Linked DNA regions of Homo sapiens. The protein of the gene in region 4 purifies or fractionates together with the protein of the main gene of each other region. This does not show direct contact. Each region holds a gene or a part of one and is shown on either strand. Other genes may lie near its edges. The genes, in order: RIC3, EFNB2, PACC1, RIC1 and S1PR3.

Region 1 (3,106 bases), on a different chromosome or scaffold from region 4:
TGTTTGTGGGGCTAATGGGCCCAGAGGAGGGTAAGACTCTGCTGTCTAAGCTGAAGCCTCTTCCTCGCAGCGAGGGTCTTCCTAGGAACATTGATGCTGCCTCAGACATCCTCTTTTCTCCAGAGTAGGGAAGACTCCCACTGATCTGAGAATGAGCCCAGAGGCTTGTTTGGGGACTGTTTTACTCTGATACTACCTGGATATCTAGCTTCCTTTACCCCTGTTCTGCTTAACAGAACTGCCAAGCCCAGAAGTACCTTTGCACTCCTGGTTTTCAGTGGACAGAGGAAGCTTTAGATAGAGACTTTAGACCCTGCCCTGCAGAGTCAAGACTTGAGGCCATTGAAGCTGCAGGAAGCCCTGCCCAGGGATGGTCCTGCCATGAGGAGGCTGCAACCCTATAAGAGGGCTCAAGATTGTGAATTCTGCTCCTGCCATGAGGAGCTCAGAAGGCCAGGAAGCCAGCAATAGGGGAGAGAATCTGTGTGCTTATGGACAGTCCTTACCTAAAGCTGTTTCTGAATGTTGCACCCTTTGAGAAATTTCTTCTCAGAACCATAAATTGAAACAAATGAGGACTGATCTTGTATACAAAGTGCCAACTCAAGAGGGAAGTTGGAGTATGTCTGTTGCAGAGAACCAATATAGCAGTGCCCAGGGGTAGAGACCATGTGTTCCATACTCGGATATTTGGGTCTTTTTGAGAGAGCTGGGGAAAGTAGCAGCAACTAGATTAAGACTGGGAGGATTTTGACCAAACTAAAGGCCTTTTCTCCTTACTGCATCTGACGTGTGTCTTCTTGAGACAAGATAGCACCCATGAATTACATCATGAGGTATGTGTGAATTCAGTTTACATGTAAGACCTGAGAGTTCGAAGAGGGCACATTCCCAAAGACATTCCCAGTCATGAAATGTAGAAGACTGGAAAATTAAGACATTATGTAAAGGTAGATATGGCTTTTAGAGTTACATTATGCTTGGCATGAATAAGGTGCCAGGAAAACAGTTTAAAATTATACATCAGCATACAGACTGCTGTTAGAAGGTATGGGATCATATTAAGATAATCTGTCAGCTACTACTAGGCATTTATTGTTAATTGAGTTACAGAAAGTCATTCAAGACTGAGTTTATAGAAAGCATATTGCATCTATCTCTGTGTAGAACATTTGATTCACATTGTGAAGAATGCAGTTTAAAATATACTGAATGCAATCTAGATGTATTGTACACGAAAGGTGAAAAATAACAGGTGCTCTTTACTGTTTAGATAAATTGTTTTCTGTGTTATTTCCCTTCGTTCACTGTGAGGGGTTGATTCATGAGGAGAGCCCTGGGTTCCTGGCTCAGGTTTACTTTTGGCCTTAGGATAGGATTCCCTTATTAGAGATAAATACTGCTGTTCTCTTCTAGCTCATTCATTCATTTAGCAGTCAATTGCTCAGTGCCAGGTGCTAGGAACAGAGGCTCAATCTCTACCCTCAGAAAACTCAGTGTGACGAGAGAGAGCCTGACAGATAAAATGAACTATGACCCTGTAAGAGGGCTCAGGATCGTGAATCCTGCAGGCAGAGAAACATGAGCCATAATCTGTCCCTGCATTTTCTAGCTGTGGAATCTTGGGTCAGCTCCTTAACTGGTCTGAGCTTTGGCTTCAGGGTAGTAAAGGGAGGGGTATTAAAGGTCCTGGTTAAATGAAATCATCAGTGTGTGTAAAACAGCATTGGTTCTAGCTCATACATGATAACCACTCATTAAGTGGTAATTATGTTTTTATTATAAGGGCTATGCTGTAATTCAGACATGGGCCCAAAACTACAGGAAAGATAAATTGTTTTTGCTAAAGTATTGCCAAGAAACTTCACAGTTTCTTGGGAGGTGGGCCTTGAGGCATGCAAAGAACTTCTTCAGGTAGGCAAAGAAGAGAGGACACTCTTGGCAGAAAGAGTTGTTGAAAAAAGCAGTAGGGTGTGAAAATACATGGATGTTCAAGTATTTTGGTGAGGCTGTTATGTAAAGTGTTGTTGGTCTTTGGGGAAAATTGGCTTATGGAAATTCCTGCCAGAAGTACTAAGCCCTTATGGTGGTTCTTCCTGCCCTAGCTCTTGGTTGGTTTATATATAAGGAATATATTTGTGTATTTATATATCAGACATTTGGATGTACCTTTCAGTTATTTAGGATTTAGAAAATTCTTTTTGGATTTTCCAGAATTATTTTATCCTTCGGGGATGACAGTTATATGTGTATATACAACCCAGGATGACAAAATCATGGGTCCGGTTTTTGTTGCCAGGGCTGCTGTCTCTTTTCTTGCGGTCTTCATTTCTCACGAGGGTGCTGGGAACTTGATCAGTCCCCTGGCCTTTTGGCACTGTGGCAGAGTACACAAGTCATACCTTTATGGACAGTTAGCTCACAAAACAACTGCATAATCTGGGATCACTCTTGGTAAATCAGGTGGGTGGTGCAGCCAGGAGATCCCCTTTCCTGGTCACAACAGGAGCACAAAGAAACCATTATCTCCATGACTAGCTCCAGAAGCTGGGCCCAGGGAGTCGTGATGAGGAGTGGAGGTGTATTTGGCCTGTAGAATCAACGGCCTTTGAGAACCATACAATGCACCTTATATGGCTTGGGTGATCAAATAACTTAAGGTCCAAATTCAAACACTTTGGAAAAAGGGAGCTTTAATATAATTATGCCAAGGTGATAGGCATAAACTAAGACTGTCCTGGACGTAGGGTCACCCCTGTCTATAGCCATTTAAGATTTTTGAACCTGATGACTAAACAAACAAAACCCTCTTTCCTTTTTAGAATATCCTGTATGCGCTATTTCCCACCAGAGGCAGAGGCCACAGGAGATAGGCCATGGTTCAGGTAGGAAATGCTCTTGGTCACATCAGAACTCTAGATCTGGGGGAATAAACAAACCCGAATTATTACCACACTCTCAAAGTTCTCTTCAATCTGGACTATTTGTATTCCAAAGAAAAATTTAGTGCTTTAGCTATTCAGCAATATTGAGAAAAAACATGAACACATTTATGACTTTGCCTTGACCATTGACTTTTCTAAAATGTGCTTCCTTTTCCTTTATT
Region 2 (4,371 bases), on a different chromosome or scaffold from region 4:
TGTGCTAATCCCTCATCTAATTATATCTAAGCCACAGAGGGTTTAATTGATCCTCTTCTAAATTTTAAATGGTAACATTTTTAAATATTGCATAATAGTATTTTTTCAGGTGGTTATCGTTATTTTGTTTCACATTTTCCATGTAAAAGAAAATATTAAACAGGTCCCTGACAAAAGTGTAGAATACCAGATAAAATTGTCCGTCGTTGACCTTCGTTTTCTTAACAGTCTTGGAACAAATAGTTCTGTATTTGTTACCATGCTAATGAAGGTTTTATAGAGTAGCTGTTGAGCAGACATCAGCAGTTTTGTATTAGGATTGTTGTGTGCTTGCTTGGTCGTTGTGCAAATTTATCGTCTGCAGCAATATTCCATCCCTTTCCAAGAGTCAAGGAGGGAAGTTGTTATTTCTAACTTTCAATGACAAGATGTGTCAAATTCTTGTGACAAACTGATAAATGGATAATATAATGATGCCAGGCAGTTTTTTAGTGCTTAACATTTGGGCTGGCAGTCTGTTCGGTGTGAGAGTTTCTGCTGCCTTCCAAATATATTTTAAGTGTAAATCAAATAATACAGACGAGTTACGAGCTGAACATTTTCCCAGGCCCCCTCACTCCTTCCGCGTTCCCGAGCTGTTCTGTTCTGCCAGGAGGCAGGGCTCTTCTTTAGAAGGCAGGCCCTTTGAAGGTTTGCATGAAACTCCCTTTCTCAAAGGAGGCGGAAGAGCAATACCACATAAACGCTCACCGCTGACCTGGAGAATTGGCCACTTCCCTTTTTCTTCCCTGCCGCTGCCCCAGGCTGGCTGACACGGGTTAGAAGATGAAGCAAGATCAAGGGCTGGCTGTCACCGACAGTCTGTGCTCTTGCTGGATAATGATACAAAGGAAACCCTGTGGCTTGGGAGGGTAGGGAAGTCCCTCCTAGAGATACCTCTCATTTCCTTTTGCGTTGAGCTCTTAGACGAGGTATTGGCGAGGCAAAGTCCAGCTTCTAGTTAGTAATAAGCCTGGCTTATTTTTCACATTTTTAAGGGTCATAAAAGCAGTCCGTCTGCACTGGGACAGCAGTAACTATCTCTGACCTTTTCTGTCTCCGCGTCTGCAGGTTCTAGCACAGACGGCAACAGCGCCGGACATTCGGGGAACAACATCCTCGGTTCCGAAGTGGCCTTATTTGCAGGGATTGCTTCAGGATGCATCATCTTCATCGTCATCATCATCACGCTGGTGGTCCTCTTGCTGAAGTACCGGAGGAGACACAGGAAGCACTCGCCGCAGCACACGACCACGCTGTCGCTCAGCACACTGGCCACACCCAAGCGCAGCGGCAACAACAACGGCTCAGAGCCCAGTGACATTATCATCCCGCTAAGGACTGCGGACAGCGTCTTCTGCCCTCACTACGAGAAGGTCAGCGGGGACTACGGGCACCCGGTGTACATCGTCCAGGAGATGCCCCCGCAGAGCCCGGCGAACATTTACTACAAGGTCTGAGAGGGACCCTGGTGGTACCTGTGCTTTCCCAGAGGACACCTAATGTCCCGATGCCTCCCTTGAGGGTTTGAGAGCCCGCGTGCTGGAGAATTGACTGAAGCACAGCACCGGGGGAGAGGGACACTCCTCCTCGGAAGAGCCCGTCGCGCTGGACAGCTTACCTAGTCTTGTAGCATTCGGCCTTGGTGAACACACACGCTCCCTGGAAGCTGGAAGACTGTGCAGAAGACGCCCATTCGGACTGCTGTGCCGCGTCCCACGTCTCCTCCTCGAAGCCATGTGCTGCGGTCACTCAGGCCTCTGCAGAAGCCAAGGGAAGACAGTGGTTTGTGGACGAGAGGGCTGTGAGCATCCTGGCAGGTGCCCCAGGATGCCACGCCTGGAAGGGCCGGCTTCTGCCTGGGGTGCATTTCCCCCGCAGTGCATACCGGACTTGTCACACGGACCTCGGGCTAGTTAAGGTGTGCAAAGATCTCTAGAGTTTAGTCCTTACTGTCTCACTCGTTCTGTTACCCAGGGCTCTGCAGCACCTCACCTGAGACCTCCACTCCACATCTGCATCACTCATGGAACACTCATGTCTGGAGTCCCCTCCTCCAGCCGCTGGCAACAACAGCTTCAGTCCATGGGTAATCCGTTCATAGAAATTGTGTTTGCTAACAAGGTGCCCTTTAGCCAGATGCTAGGCTGTCTGCGAAGAAGGCTAGGAGTTCATAGAAGGGAGTGGGGCTGGGGAAAGGGCTGGCTGCAATTGCAGCTCACTGCTGCTGCCTCTGAAACAGAAAGTTGGAAAGGAAAAAAGAAAAAAGCAATTAGGTAGCACAGCACTTTGGTTTTGCTGAGATCGAAGAGGCCAGTAGGAGACACGACAGCACACACAGTGGATTCCAGTGCATGGGGAGGCACTCGCTGTTATCAAATAGCGATGTGCAGGAAGAAAAGCCCCTCTTCATTCCGGGGAACAAAGACGGGTATTGTTGGGAAAGGAACAGGCTTGGAGGGAAGGGAGAAAGTAGGCCGCTGATGATATATTCGGGCAGGACTGTTGTGGTACTGGCAATAAGATACACAGCTCCGAGCTGTAGGAGAGTCGGTCTGCTTTGGATGATTTTTTAAGCAGACTCAGCTGCTATACTTATCACATTTTATTAAACACAGGGAAAGCATTTAGGAGAATAGCAGAGAGCCAAATCTGACCTAAAAGTTGAAAAGCCAAAGGTCAAACAGGCTGTAATTCCATCATCATCGTTGTTATTAAAGAATCCTTATCTATAAAAGGTAGGTCAGATCCCCCTCCCCCCAGGTTCCTCCTTCCCCTCCCGATTGAGCCTTACGACACTTTGGTTTATGCGGTGCTGTCCGGGTGCCAGGGCTGCAGGGTCGGTACTGATGGAGGCTGCAGCGCCCGGTGCTCTGTGTCAAGGTGAAGCACATACGGCAGACCTCTTAGAGTCCTTAAGACGGAAGTAAATTATGATGTCCAGGGGGAGAAGGAAGATAGGACGTATTTATAATAGGTATATAGAACACAAGGGATATAAAATGAAAGATTTTTACTAATATATATTTTAAGGTTGCACACAGTACACACCAGAAGATGTGAAATTCATTTGTGGCAATTAAGTGGTCCCAATGCTCAGCGCTTAAAAAAACAAATTGGACAGCTACTTCTGGGAAAAACAACATCATTCCAAAAAGAACAATAATGAGAGCAAATGCAAAAATAACCAAGTCCTCCGAAGGCATCTCACGGAACCGTAGACTAGGAAGTACGAGCCCCACAGAGCAGGAAGCCGATGTGACTGCATCATATATTTAACAATGACAAGATGTTCCGGCGTTTATTTCTGCGTTGGGTTTTCCCTTGCCTTATGGGCTGAAGTGTTCTCTAGAATCCAGCAGGTCACACTGGGGGCTTCAGGTGACGATTTAGCTGTGGCTCCCTCCTCCTGTCCTCCCCCGCACCCCCTCCCTTCTGGGAAACAAGAAGAGTAAACAGGAAACCTACTTTTTATGTGCTATGCAAAATAGACATCTTTAACATAGTCCTGTTACTATGGTAACACTTTGCTTTCTGAATTGGAAGGGAAAAAAAATGTAGCGACAGCATTTTAAGGTTCTCAGACCTCCAGTGAGTACCTGCAAAAATGAGTTGTCACAGAAATTATGATCCTCTATTTCCTGAACCTGGAAATGATGTTGGTCCAAAGTGCGTGTGTGTATGTGTGAGTGGGTGCGTGGTATACATGTGTACATATATGTATAATATATATCTACAATATATATTATATATATCTATATCATATTTCTGTGGAGGGTTGCCATGGTAACCAGCCACAGTACATATGTAATTCTTTCCATCACCCCAACCTCTCCTTTCTGTGCATTCATGCAAGAGTTTCTTGTAAGCCATCAGAAGTTACTTTTAGGATGGGGGAGAGGGGCGAGAAGGGGAAAAATGGGAAATAGTCTGATTTTAATGAAATCAAATGTATGTATCATCAGTTGGCTACGTTTTGGTTCTATGCTAAACTGTGAAAAATCAGATGAATTGATAAAAGAGTTCCCTGCAACCAATTGAAAAGTGTTCTGTGCGTCTGTTTTGTGTCTGGTGCAGAATATGACAATCTACCAACTGTCCCTTTGTTTGAAGTTGGTTTAGCTTTGGAAAGTTACTGTAAATGCCTTGCTTGTATGATCGTCCCTGGTCACCCGACTTTGGAATTTGCACCATCATGTTTCAGTGAAGATGCTGTAAATAGGTTCAGATTTTACTGTCTATGGATTTGGGGTGTTACAGTAGCCTTATTCACCTTTTTAATAAAAATACACATGAAAACAAGAAAGAAATGGCTTTTCTTACCCAGATTGT
Region 3 (4,371 bases), on a different chromosome or scaffold from region 4:
CCTTTAGTTCTCTCTCCTTTTCCATTGTAGAAGTCTGCTCTGTTTCCTATGCCTACACAAAGAATCATCTTCCCTTCGCTTCTGTAGAGAATGGTTCCAGGGTCTTTTACCCAGAGGCAACCATCCCCAGCGGCTCTGCATACCTGGGGAGGGTATAGGGTGTGTCTGGCCCAGCCAACAGGCAGTCCAGTAATGACTACCCTGCTCTCTAACGGTGCTGATTCCAAGCTGGGGGTTTGGAAGGAAAGCTTGTACCTCTACAACAGGTCTCTCCTTCATCTGTTTTGGGTTAGGGATTTGCTCTAATTTGTTTGCTCCACCAATCTGGCCCAAGCTGTTTTTTATGCTTTATACCAGTTCCTCAAAATGTCTGGTCCACTGGTGATATCCTTTCTTCACGTGCAAAGCTATTATTGATGTTCTAGTCTGTTCTATCTCATTCCTTAGAGAATCATTTTAGCAGGATTTTAGGAGGGGGCCTAGCGTTCACATACTAACAAAAAAAAAATTAGTGTTATTCTTTCATCTTAAAACCCACTAACAGTTCCCTGTTACCCAAGGGAGCAAGTGTGGCTCTACAGCACGATGCATGTTCTTTTCTCATCTGGCCATTACTCTGTCCACAGCTTCATCACCCATCAGTCTTCCAGGGCTCCTGACCCTATGAAACATTTCCCCACCAACTGCAATTGTGCCCAGAGGCACAAGTACAACATGTCGTCTCTTCCCTTTAGGTCATGGTGCAATTTCCTCTGCCTAGAAAACCTTTCCTTCCCAATTTCATCTGGAAAACTATTGTAGCCCCTTTCAATGCTTTCTGAAGCAAGAATATGAAATGAAAAAGATGAGATGTAAATCAATACAAAACGCCTACCCTGTCTTTGAAACCCTGTGCAGTGCCACTCCTCCAGGGCGCTCCTAACCCCATCCCTCAGTCATCCTTCCCAGCCGTGCTGTGTTGTGCACGACAGCATGGCCAGCCCAGGGCCCAGGAGTCCTTGTCCCCAGACCGACGCTCCTTTACGCTGGCGTATTAATTTCAAACTATGGATTCTCAGGCCCCACCTAAGGAATTATAATTCAGTTGGCTTCACATGGAACCTAGAAATTCATATTTTCAAAAAGTATCCTGGCAATTCTGTCAAGTGGTCAGGTATGGGACCCACTTCGCTATATCGCACCAGCCCCACCCTTTAGCCCTGCCATTCTTCCATTGGGGACAGGGTCTCACCGCACTGTCAGGAATCCCTGAGCATTACTCAGCAAAGGCTGGAGGCCTCACTGTCCTCCCTGAATGCAAGTGAGCCAACCACAGCCAAGTGTCCACATGGCACAGCCGCATGTCTCCTTGGGGACTAAGGCCCCACACTGAGTGAGTGGAAGAAGGACTCCTAGGAAAAAGGAAACTTGGGGCCTTGGGTTGCGGGGCTAACAGAGCAGCTGCCCAGACCCAGCTCAGGCAGACAGGAATTACCACAGTCTGATTGGAGAAGGGGTCCGTGTAGTTGATCCTCTGGGTGGTGCAATTCATGTCACCCGGCTGGCCAGGGCTTGTCAGAGGAGGAATGACCTCGTAATGGTGCTTACAGCTGAGCAACTGGGCCTGACCGGGGTACAAGGCAATACCTGGGGGCACAAACAGGAAAAGCAAGTGTCAGAAATCACACTCCTGACCACATCCCTGAAATCATCTCACACCTACCAACAACCTACGTTCTGGACTCCCTGGAGGACTGCAGGGAAGGGAGAAGAAAAGGGTTTCAGAGGGTGAGGAGCCACATCCCCTGGCCTCAGAAAGCCCCGCTGTAGCAGAGGGCACAAGCCCCTCCTCAGTAAGCCCCTGGCCAACCTGGGATCCAGCCGCCCTGATGCCCACATCAAAACCCACTCCACCTCAGAGCCCCGCTCCACACCCTCCGAAGGAGTGTCTCTTGACTCAGCCCCTGTGCCACCCCTCTGGGCCAACACCCACCTGCAGAATCACTGGGAGGCTCTAAACTGTGGAACTCCTCAGAACTCATTTTGTCTCTTAGACTGGGAGCCCCAAGTGTGCAAGTCACATCCCAAGAGTCCCTCCCTCTTCCCAGCCCAGGCACCTCTACTGACAGTAGCTGTCCAGCCTCAAGGGCAGCAATGCTAAGACAGCAGCACATGGCATCAGAGACAGACAGACTTCAGAGACACTAAGACACCAGACAGAGAAAGTAAAACGTACAGATAAAGAAGACTCAAGCAGACACACAGAGAAGAGGGACAAACACAAGACAGGAAGAGATGGGCAGAGGAGCCATGACCAGCACACCTGACTCTGCTGGAGGCTGGCAGGAAGCCCCAGAGAGAGGGCACCCGGACTCTGGCTCTGCCATGTGAGCAGGCCCTCCCACAGGTTACTCAGGGGCATCTGTGGGCAGAACAGGTGGCACACACTGGGTGGACAGGGCCCAAGTCACACAGCTCATGCCTCCTCATTTACTCTACAGCCCCTAGAACATCCAGTGCCAGCCCTGCAGCCCAGAGCAGATAGCTTGCTCTATAGCAGAGTGGACTCCCCACTCAGGGACCAGACACCCCAGTGAGACAGGTATACCCAGTGTGGCCTGGGAGTCCCTCTCCAGGCAGGGTTGAATGGCCTCGCCTCCCCTGCCATCCTCCCCACCCCACAGTCCAGCCTTGACTCCTGCTTCTCCTCATCCCTGCCCTCTGGCCCCAGCCAAGTTAGTCTCATCCTCTCCAGAGAAGCCCTCTGCCTCCCTAGACACCCCTTCGCTCTGCTGATCCCCATCCCAAAGACACTCTCTTCCCATCTATGTGCTTTTCGAGGCCCATCTCAAATCCTACCTCTCTGCCAAGCTTTCCCTGACCCCTCTAGTAGCCTGCAGTAGCTGCTCCAGGCTCTGTCCATTTCTGTCCTCAGCACGTAACACACTCCCAACAGCAGCTCCTTGGGCATAGACTCTATACCTAGACTATGCTTGGTTGGACTCCTCTGCCCTGCCCGTAGTACCACAAATACAACGGCAGCTCAGGGAGTATCTGCCAGCTGACACCCTAGATCTGGGGCCCTGATGCCTGGCCCAGGGGCAGGCTCTACCTGGGGCATCATAGCGATCCACTTCCTTGTAAGACACAGACATGACAGGGTGCTTGAGTTTCTCACGAAAGTCTGTGATGGTCCGGTAGACCAGGAAGACGGCCACAGCCATGAGCAGCAGGTAGATGAAGATGAGTAGGACCGAGAAGACGTTCTTCAGGCAGGCCTTGCTGAAGCGGATGCTGCTGGAGGCGGACTCGCTGTCCAGGCCTGACAACAACAAAACACCATGTGACCCAGGGCACAGGGACAAGGTACAGACAGAGATGGCCAGCAACCTCCAGGCCCTTGCCTGCCTCACCAAGGAGGTGAAGTCACCTGCACGCCCAACCTTTCCACCTCACCCCACAAATCATAACAAAGGGCACCTGTAAACATTTACTACACAGCTTCTCTGCCAGGTAGAGGACACCAAGCTGAAGGAGACTTATTCATTGTCTTTAAGGAGTTTACTCTCAAAAGAAAAAAGATAAAAGATAAAAAACGATAAAAATGTTAAAAGAAAAAGCAAAAAACAAACAAAAAGAACAGAAAAAAGGAGTTTACTCTCTAGAGGGATAGGCAGTTACAATCCAACAAGTGAGCTGGCCCCAACCTACCTCTCTGGCCTTATCCCTCACTGCTCCACTTCCCCAGTTCTCCCAGCTCTAGCTCCACCTCTACTCATCGACTTTCTGTTCTTCTGGAGTGCCCTTCTCAACCCGGGATTCCCTCACACTTACCATTCCCTCTGCTTGATTTTCTTTTCTTCCACAGCTGATGCTTCACTCATCCTAAGCCCCGAAAGCTTTTTGCTTGGCATCTGGCTTCCAACAGTGACAGAGTAGCTTGGTCACGCCATCCTTCCATGGAAGCATTTTAATTTAGAAAGACATTTTCTTGGCCAGGCGCAGTGGCTCAAGCCTGTAATCCCAGCACTTTGGGAGGCCGAGGCAGGAGGATCACCTGAGGTCGGGAGTTCGAGACCAGCCTGACCAACATGGTGAAACCCCTGTCTCTACTAAAAATACAAAATTAGCTGGGCGTGGTGGCGCATGCCTGTAATCCCAGCTACTCAAGAGGCTGAGGCAGGAGAATTGCTTGAACCCAGGAGGCGGAGGTTGCAGTGAGCCGAGATTACTCCATTGCACTCCAGCCTGGGCAACAAGAGCGAAACTCCATCTCAAAAAAAAAAAAAAAAGAAAAAAGAAAGAAAGACATTTTCTTGAGGAAGCCTCTCCTGACCCCTAACCTTTATTTGGGCACCTCTTCCTCAGTGTTCCCAGGGAGCCCTGTACGTC
Region 4 (3,346 bases):
TTTCAGTTATTTTGGGTATATATATCCAGAAATGGGACTGCTGGGTCATAATTCTACTTGCATTTTTTTTGAGGAATCGCCATGTTTCCCATAGCAACTGCACCATTTTAAATTATCAGCAGTGGACAAGGGTTCTATTTTCTCCACATCTCACCAACACTCACTTTCAGTTTTTTGATAGTAGTCATCCTAATGGGTGTGAGATGGTGCCATCACTTTAGAAAACTTTTTTCAAGAGATAATTTCAAATATATTAAAAAGTACAGTTAATAATATAGTGGGTTCTCCTCCCTCCCCCATGTGGCCGTCACTCAGCTTACATCACTAATGGCCACATATGTTTGTTGTACCTCCCCACTCTTGTATTAACTGAAGAAAATCCATGACATATTATCTATAAATATTTCAGTTTTTTTCCTACAAGGACTCTTTAAGAATTATGACCAAAATACCATTATCATCCCTATAAAAATTTGATAATTCCTTGGTACCATCAAATATCCATTAAGTATTCAGATTTCTAATTGTTTCATAGACATCATAATTTTGTATAGGTTAAGATTTAAATAAGGTTCACATATTGTGATTGTGTTCTTAATTCTCTTTTTAAGTGGATGTTCCCCCACCCTCTCCTTTTCCCTTCCTTGCAGTTTATTCATGGAAGAAATTTGGTTTTGTGGATTTTCTCACAATAATGATTTTGCTTATTACATCTCCATGGTTTAGTTTAACAGTTTCCTCTATTTCCTGTAGTAGCTGAATGTAAAGACTTGGTCAAACTCTAGCTAGATTTTATTGAGGGAGTTGGGGAAGACTGCTTCATAGGTGGTGGTAGTATATTTTTCCATCTAAAGGTACATAATGTCGGTTATCTAATTCTTTCTTTAAATGTTTTCTATGTTCACATGGTAATTTTAGCCATGGATTTCATGTTTTAGTTTCAAGATCCTGAGAAATCAACATCTGAGGAACAGCTAATATTTAAAATTAAAGGAAAATATATTTTCTCCACGAAGTTGGTTGTAACTTTTGGCAATTCTTCATCAGGTGATGAATGCAGTATTGGTTCAGCCACAGACTTGACTGAAAGTAGCTCCATGGTGGATGGCGACTGGACAATGGTGGATGAAAATTTCTCTACACTCAGTTTAACTCAGTCAGAGCTGGAGCACATTTCCATGGAGTTGGCCAGTAAAGGGCCTCATAAATCCCAGGTCCAGCTTCGGTGAGTTTCTTGGCTATTTGAAATCACAGAATGCCTACTCAGAGTATTTGGGCAAATAGGTATGGGGCTACTCTCCTAATAATCATTGCACTTCTGTACATCTTATAGATCTTTCTTAGCATAAATCATTTTGTTTCTGCTTATATTTAGGTATTTGCTACACATTTTCATGGAGGCAGGGTGCCTAGACTGGTGCATCGTTATAGGCCTGATTCTTAGAGAATCCTCAATAATCAATCAGATTTTGGTTATTACACAGTCTTCAGAGGTAGATGGAGAGATGTTACAGAACATAAAGACAGGGCTCCATGCAGTGGACCGATGGGCCTCTACAGACTGGTAAGTGCTGCTTTCCTTAGGCTTGGTGTCCTTCCATGTCTTTTGGTGAATCCTGTCCTTTCACATTAAGGCCTAGTTATGGTTCATGTGTTACATTTTATTTATTTATTATATATTATTTATTATATGTTCATTTTTAAGCTACTTTCTTTAGTAATCATTCTATACCCAGCTATTTAAATGGATAATTCCATCGAGTAAGGTTACACTGTTGGTCAGTGTATAATTTATAGTGTGAATGTATATCACTGACTTAAGATTGATGCAGTGCAAATGAGCTTAGAATTAGACTGGAACTTCAGATTTGCATCCCTGTGAAATTGAAAGCAATGGTCTACAAATATCTACTTGAAAAGATTCAAACTTAAGGTCCATGTGAATTTAACATTCCATGGCAGTTACAAGCAAATCCAAATTAGAGTTGTGGTTGCAGTTAAGAGCCTTGGACTCTAGCCCTGTCTTTATTACCAGTTAATGTGTGTATTTGGAGCTAGTTACTTCCCTTACTTGGATCTGGTTTTCCTTAATTGGCAAATGCATTTAGGTTAAATGTTGTCTGAAGGTCCTTTTTCAAGTCTAAGCTCCTGTTGGCCTTTCAATTGTAAAATATAATTTTTAGTTGTAATACTGGTTCTAAAACATCAGCCTTTGCCCCTAATGCTTAGAAACTTAAGCCTCAGGCTTATGCAATGTGCAGCCCCCTCTGCTGGGCAGGACAGCCAAGAAGCCTTTCCTCCCTACCTTCTTTGCCTCCTCTCTCCCCTCCTAATCTATCGTCGTCTTTACCATATCAATGTTCAGTAGAAGTTCACCCGTAATGTTCTACCAAACCTTTTGAATTATGGCAGATGAGCTAATGTTTTTTTTCTCTACATAGTCCTGGATATAAGCCATTTTTAAACATCATTAAGCCACAACTGCAGAAGCTCAGTGAGATAACAGAAGAGCAGGTCCAGCCAGATGCCTTCCAACCAATAACTATGGGTAAGACTCCAGAACAGACTAGCCCCCGGGCAGAGGAGAGCAGGGGCTCCTCCAGCCATGGAAGCATCCCCCAGGGTGAAGTTGGAAGCAGCAATATGGTCAGCCGGAAAGAGGAGGACACAGCCCAAGCAGAGGAGGAAGAACCTTTTCAGGATGGGACTTACGACTGTTCTGTGTCCTAACAGTGAGGTTCCATCACAAAGGGGCAGTATTAATTAGCAGCAGCGTGCAGCTCAGTACGTTGTAACATAGTTGGATGATTTAACAGGAGAACTCAGTTCAGAGACTCTTCGGTAAGTATTAGTAGATTTTAACTAATTCTTTCTTGTCTAAGAAATCTTTTTGACTCCATAAAAATGTGATATAAAGCATCTTTCATAAAAAAATTTTAAGCTGCAGTGAAAAGTAAATATTGTACAGATGTACATGAGAATATTTTGGTTTTACTCAAAGGTTGGTAGCTCTTAAACCACAGGAATTGTTTTGCCCCAGGTGAGCTTACTTTTTCACTACTTACATCTTCTCACATTTCCCGGTTCTGCATTATGTCCAGATTGCTTTTTAAAAAATAAATGCTAAGGTGCTTGCTATAGTCTGTCAGGTACTTGAGCTACCTGTTTGCTCCCTTGGATACAGCTGGACTCTTTAATCAGTCCTCCTGAATAGATTGCTACCCTGGGGCACAATATGTGCCAGTGTGATGGAAACATTCTCCTTGGCTTTACTAGCCAGTCAAATCCCAGTCCAGAATTGATGGAAGCTATTTACCTGTGAGTTAATGTGCTTGTTTTAGCAAGC
Region 5 (4,960 bases), about 83 Mb from region 4:
TACAGACAAACCAGGTGAGGGTTTTGTATCTTTTCTCCCTTCTCTTCTTCAAAGCATGCAAGTCAGTGCACTTCCCTGGTTAGACTTACTGCTTCCCGGTGGCTTTTCCCCAAGTCCTTCTCCATCACAAATAAGGCTGGGACATTATGAGCTATCTGGGCATAGTCCAGGGAACCCCAGATATGGAGGCTGTGCCCCAGGAAACTCAGGCCCCGGCCCCGAGCATCTGCCTCCGTGAACACCATCCTGAGCTTCCAGACTTGTGTGTGGGAAGGCAAGTGCGTCTGAGCCAGGAGGTGTTTGACCGCTTTGCCTGTCCATGAGTCTTTTTAAACCTTCTCCATTCTGCTGCTGCTTCATGACAGCATAGGATAAATGATTCTCAAGATTTCCACAGGGATGAATCCACAGGGATGTGGAAATAGGCTCTGTGAGGTGGCTAAAGGCACATTCAAATAAGAGGCATCCTGCCCACGAAGGCTACCGGAGATCCTTCCTATCCCTTCCCAAAGCGGCAGTCTCACCTGGTGACTCGGCATGCGTGCCACCTTGCACCATGGACATAGCACACATGGCCTCATGGCAGCATCTGCCTTCTGAATGTACACAGGAGGAGACCGAGGCTGGGGGAGGGGGGGTGTCACTTGTCCTTAGTCACAGAGCTGGGAAGGGGCTGGGCCGGTGTCCGTGCCATCTGATTCCAGGATGTCACATTAGGGATGAGCTCTTTGGGAGGCTGCCACCTTGCCACTGGTTCTTTGCCTAGGTAGTGACAAGAGATTCTCTGGCATGTTTTAGAGACAAACTGCCTCATGCTCCCATGCCAGCAGAATGTTAGCATGTCATTCTGGGGGCACTGAAATATCTGGAAAATTTTGAAGCCAGGAAAATGGAGCGGCATCTGCAAGGCCGAAGAGCACCATCCACTGCTTGAGGAGCGGACCGTCACCTCGCTGTGTGAGCTGACCCCAGTCCGGCCTGTGAGCAGTGAAGATCCACTCACTGGGCACCAATCTGCACTGGACAATCTCGTCACTGATTTAACCCAACTGGCCTATTGTCTCTTACAGACACAGCTTCAATGCCTCAAAAATAGGATTCAAAAAAGGGAAGGAGACTTTATGCCCAGTAGCTATAACAGTAACATCAACTGAAACATGTTATTAACTGAAACTAGATACGATTCCACTCAGTCTATTCTTTTTCTTTTTTCTCAAACATTATACATTTCCAAAAGCTTAAGGAAAATCTTAAGGCAATTAATTTGGCAGAAAACATATGGCAGAGGAATAATAGGAAATGCCTCCAAAACTGATAAGAAAGGAATTACAAAGCCAAATATGAAGAAACAGAAAGTTTCATAGAACCCACAGCACAGCACCCTGGTTCCAGCTAAGGTAAACAGACTGCATAAGGCTGGCGGCCTGGCTCTGGTAACACTTGGGAAACAGTACAAAGTCCTGGCAGTTAAAGGGTTCTACAGCAGGGCAACCTCAGATTTTTCAAGATTGTGGCATGCTCAAATTCTCCTTTTTTTGGTAATAAAAATATACCTACAGTATATAATAAAAATATACATACAGCACAGGCATTGAGGAAGATGAAAGAGATACCATGAAATCAAGTTAATGTCATAATTTCCAGAAAGAGGAAACCAGTTCCTGAATTTTGAGAAATAAGATCCTTCGGCCACTATGTGAAGTTTCTTCTATAGGAAACTGTAGTCTCTACCCTTTGTATATGGTAGAAAATCAGAGACTCATGCATTTGAATAAAAATCACAATGATAAAGGGAGAAATGGCACTTTCAAAGATGAAAACTGGTTGAGAAATCATTCTCTCTAAATCTTAGGGGGAGGCTCTTAAGGGCTAGCTTCAGTTTGTATCTCTGGTGTTAGGTGATGGAAGTGATTTCAGAGGCCCAAAGTGAGTGCTTACTGGTTTGCTAATGAAAAAAGCCTGACGTGCGGTTCTTCTTCTATGGCAACAAAGTTATTCAACCTAGCATTAAGGTCTGCATCCATGAAATAATACTTTACAGATATGAACACTTCCACAACTCCTCAAGCGCACACACACACACACACACACATGCCCCGCACCATCACCACCTCCTCAACCAACACCAGCCCTGGGCATGGCCAGCTATCCTTGTTAGTCATGTATCTGCAGAGCATAATCCTTCCCTTGTACTTTCTAGGAATTATATTTTTCTTAACTATGCCTGCAAGATTTTCATCTATGAATAAAAAACATTGAAAAGATAAATTATGAATATGTGGTTATATACAAAGTCTGTGACTTCTAATGTCCAGATTTTAGAATGATGCCTAATTCTGGAGGTCTCAGAGGTCCAAGTGGGAGTGGGTACCATGAATGGGGGGGCCTCCATTTAAAAGTAACCTTCTAAAGAGCTCTCTGTTCCTGTAGCTCCCCTTTCCTTATTGGAAGGGTCAAAACGAAGTGTGTTCCCTTAAAAATCCAACAAGAAGTTCCTCTCTTATATCCAAATATAAAAACACCACAAAGAAATATACCATTGGGAGTGTCCAAAGCCAGAAAGTCAGAGGAAGAGAGAGAGAGAGAGAGAGAGAGAGACTGACTATTGGGAGACTCAAAAAGCCCAAAGCCCCTTCTCTAGCTGTTATCTCAGTTACGAACACAACGTACTGATTTTCCGTGGGAACCTCATTATTGCACTGTGGGGACTTCGTCTTCCAGCACCGATTCTGACGGCCCTAATTGCCTTGTTTGAGAAATGTTAGGAAAAAACTAATTTTCCGGCGAATATTGTTTAAAAGAATGATTTTCCCAGGCTAACGACCACAACCCTCTCCCACGTCCAGCATCCCCAGGCCCTGGCACTGTGGAAGCCTAACTTGTTAATTGTCCAAGGAAAACGACTGATGGAACTTCTCCACGAACAGCCTCTCCACTTTCATCCAGGTATTCAGCTCCAGCCCGTTGTAAACGCTCCGGGTGCGGTGGAAAAGGCCTCCTCCCTGTTCCTGCAGCGGCTCTGGGGGAGGGGTGCTGATGTGGAGCGCTCCGGCCGCCGTGGCGCGCCCAAGTCCCCGTCGCGCCCGGGATCGGTGGGGATTTTGTTGGAAAGGTGGGTCCTTCGGCCCCCAGCCCCCCACCCTGGTTCCGCGCCCCGCCCGGGCCCGCCTCTCACCTCCGTCGGCTGAGGGCGCTGGGGCCACCGGCATCCTAGCGGGTGGCGCGCGGCGGTGCCGGGGCGCCCGGTCCTGCGCTCGAATGCCAGATGGGCTGGGAGGCCCGGCAGTCTCAGCGCTCGCGACGTCGTTCCCGGGCCTGGGGTCCTGCTCGGTCGCGTCCTGCAGCCGCCTTCTGGTCCCTGAGTCCCTGTTGCCCGTCCCCGGAACCGGCTTCCTCGGCCTCTGCCCGAGCGAGTCAGAGACTAAACTTTTCCAGCGGCCCGCCGGGGCGGGACCCGCGCTCCGCCCCTCCCCTCGCCGCCCCCGACTCCCGCCCCTCTCCCCGCCCCCCTCTCCCCGTCCCCCGCCCGCGAACCCGGCACTCCTCCAGCTCCCCACCTCCCGCTCAAGCCGCCTGGTCTCCGTGCGCCCCGCCCGCCCCTAGCCTGGACCCCTTCTCCCCGACCCTACCAATCCCCTAGGGTCCGGCTCGCCCTTCGGCCCCTGTTCCCAGGCCGGCCTCCAGACCTTGTCCTCATCGGGCGAGCTCCAGGTGCAGAAACCGGGCGCCCAGAGACCCAGCGGGAACAGGCTTGGAACCAGGTCCGAGGTCTGGGCTTGGGCGGGCGCCTGTCGCCCTGACAGCGAGGGTTTGTTTGGGCCGATTCTTAATAGGAGGATTAATACTATCATTATCGTTGTCCAGATCCTGACCATTTCTTTTGTAACTGGCCGAGCACCGGCTTGGGCTTGCAGGTGGGCGCCTGGCGCCGGACAGCGTTTTTGTTTGGGCTTCTTCCTTTTCCGCGCGGGTCCCCTCCGGCGCCTGCCTGGTCCCTCTCCGCGCTCTACCCCCAGGCACGCAGAGACTTGGGCTCCAGGCGGGGGCAGCACTCTCCCCCAGCCTCTGCTGGTGCACCAGAGCCCACTCCGGCACAGAGCAGCGCCCCTCCTAGACCGGCAGCCAGCAGATCTCAGCCGACCCCCATGCGACCCCCTTCCTCACGCGGATTTGCCCCTTTTGTGTGGCAAAAATAATAATAATAATAATAAATCCATATGAAGGCTTCAAACAGAATTCCGAGAGAAGGAACTGCCAAATTTTCAATCAATGCCAAAGGCCATGATTGAGCGAACACAGAAACAACTGTAGAAGCTTGGGGAGAAAGGAGAAAATTAAAGAAAAAGGAGGAGGAGGAAAAGGAGAGAGGAGAGAAGCGGGAGGAAGAAGACGAAAAAGCAAGGAGAGGCCTGTTATCCGACCGTGCATTCCTGGGCCGGCAGGATTGGGCCGCAGGGGCCGCTGCAGAGAGTTGAGTTTGTGCAAAGGCCGCTCGTTACTTTCTGTCTTTTGCCCTCTTGCCTCCAGAGGATCAGCCCAGCGCATCCTTCTCTTGGAGCAGGGTGCATACGCTTATTTGGGGTGCAGTTTGAGCGGTGAAGGGCACCAAGAGTGGAAGTCGGCGGCACTCCTGTTCCCTGCAGAGAAACGCAAGCCCTCAGCAATTGAGCTGAAGGAGGCAAGTGACTCTGCCTGCTGAGGCTGCCAGCCCTAGAGGCTCTGGCCCCCGGGAGCTGGGGTACTTCCCAGCGTTTTCGCCTAAGCCACTTCGCCTGTGCTACTGTGGAGTCTTCCGGCACTGTAGCCTTCCAACTTGTTCAAAGTGCCTGGTGCACGGCTCTGAGAAGCCACTTCTGTCCCAAGTTTCATGTGGGCCTGAATGTGCTTCCCTTTGTTGGACTCCTACAGCATCAAGTCAAGAAAAGAAGGAAACATGCTCCTTTGGCATTGGTCACAACCA

What was found.
Region 1: the proteins of RIC1 (region 4) and RIC3 purify together in Homo sapiens (co-immunoprecipitation; one large-scale study listed by IntAct). This does not show direct contact.
Region 2: the proteins of RIC1 (region 4) and EFNB2 purify together in Homo sapiens (co-immunoprecipitation; one large-scale study listed by IntAct). This does not show direct contact.
Region 3: the proteins of RIC1 (region 4) and PACC1 purify together in Homo sapiens (co-immunoprecipitation; one large-scale study listed by IntAct). This does not show direct contact.
Region 5: the proteins of RIC1 (region 4) and S1PR3 purify together in Homo sapiens (co-immunoprecipitation; one large-scale study listed by IntAct). This does not show direct contact.

The regions. Positions count from the first base shown.
Region 1 is NC_000011.10:8,107,114-8,110,219, reverse strand, and holds part of RIC3 (protein RIC-3 isoform a precursor), read left to right. Parts: 3' UTR 1-3,106. UniProt on the Homo sapiens protein: Molecular chaperone which facilitates proper subunit assembly and surface trafficking of alpha-7 (CHRNA7) and alpha-8 (CHRNA8) nicotinic acetylcholine receptors.
Region 2 is NC_000013.11:106,490,168-106,494,538, reverse strand, and holds part of EFNB2 (ephrin-B2 isoform 1 precursor), read left to right. Parts: intron 1-1,110; coding exon 1,111-1,499; 3' UTR 1,500-4,371. UniProt on the Homo sapiens protein: Cell surface transmembrane ligand for Eph receptors, a family of receptor tyrosine kinases which are crucial for migration, repulsion and adhesion during neuronal, vascular and epithelial development.
Region 3 is NC_000001.11:212,383,800-212,388,170, forward strand, and holds part of PACC1 (proton-activated chloride channel), read right to left. Parts: intron 3,302-4,371; coding exon 3,092-3,301; intron 1,627-3,091; coding exon 1,475-1,626; intron 1-1,474. UniProt on the Homo sapiens protein: Chloride channel gated by pH that facilitates the entry of chloride ions into cells upon exposure to extracellular acidic pH. Involved in acidosis-induced cell death by mediating chloride influx and subsequent cell swelling.
Region 4 is NC_000009.12:5,771,517-5,774,862, forward strand, and holds part of RIC1 (guanine nucleotide exchange factor subunit RIC1), read left to right. Parts: intron 1-1,047; coding exon 1,048-1,225; intron 1,226-1,375; coding exon 1,376-1,564; intron 1,565-2,441; coding exon 2,442-2,730; 3' UTR 2,731-3,346. UniProt on the Homo sapiens protein: The RIC1-RGP1 complex acts as a guanine nucleotide exchange factor (GEF), which activates RAB6A by exchanging bound GDP for free GTP, and may thereby be required for efficient fusion of endosome-derived vesicles with the Golgi compartment.
Region 5 is NC_000009.12:88,989,911-88,994,870, reverse strand, and holds the start of S1PR3 (sphingosine 1-phosphate receptor 3), read right to left. Parts: upstream 3,404-4,960; 5' UTR 3,176-3,403; intron 3,020-3,175; exon of another isoform or gene 1-3,019. UniProt on the Homo sapiens protein: Receptor for the lysosphingolipid sphingosine 1-phosphate (S1P). S1P is a bioactive lysophospholipid that elicits diverse physiological effect on most types of cells and tissues.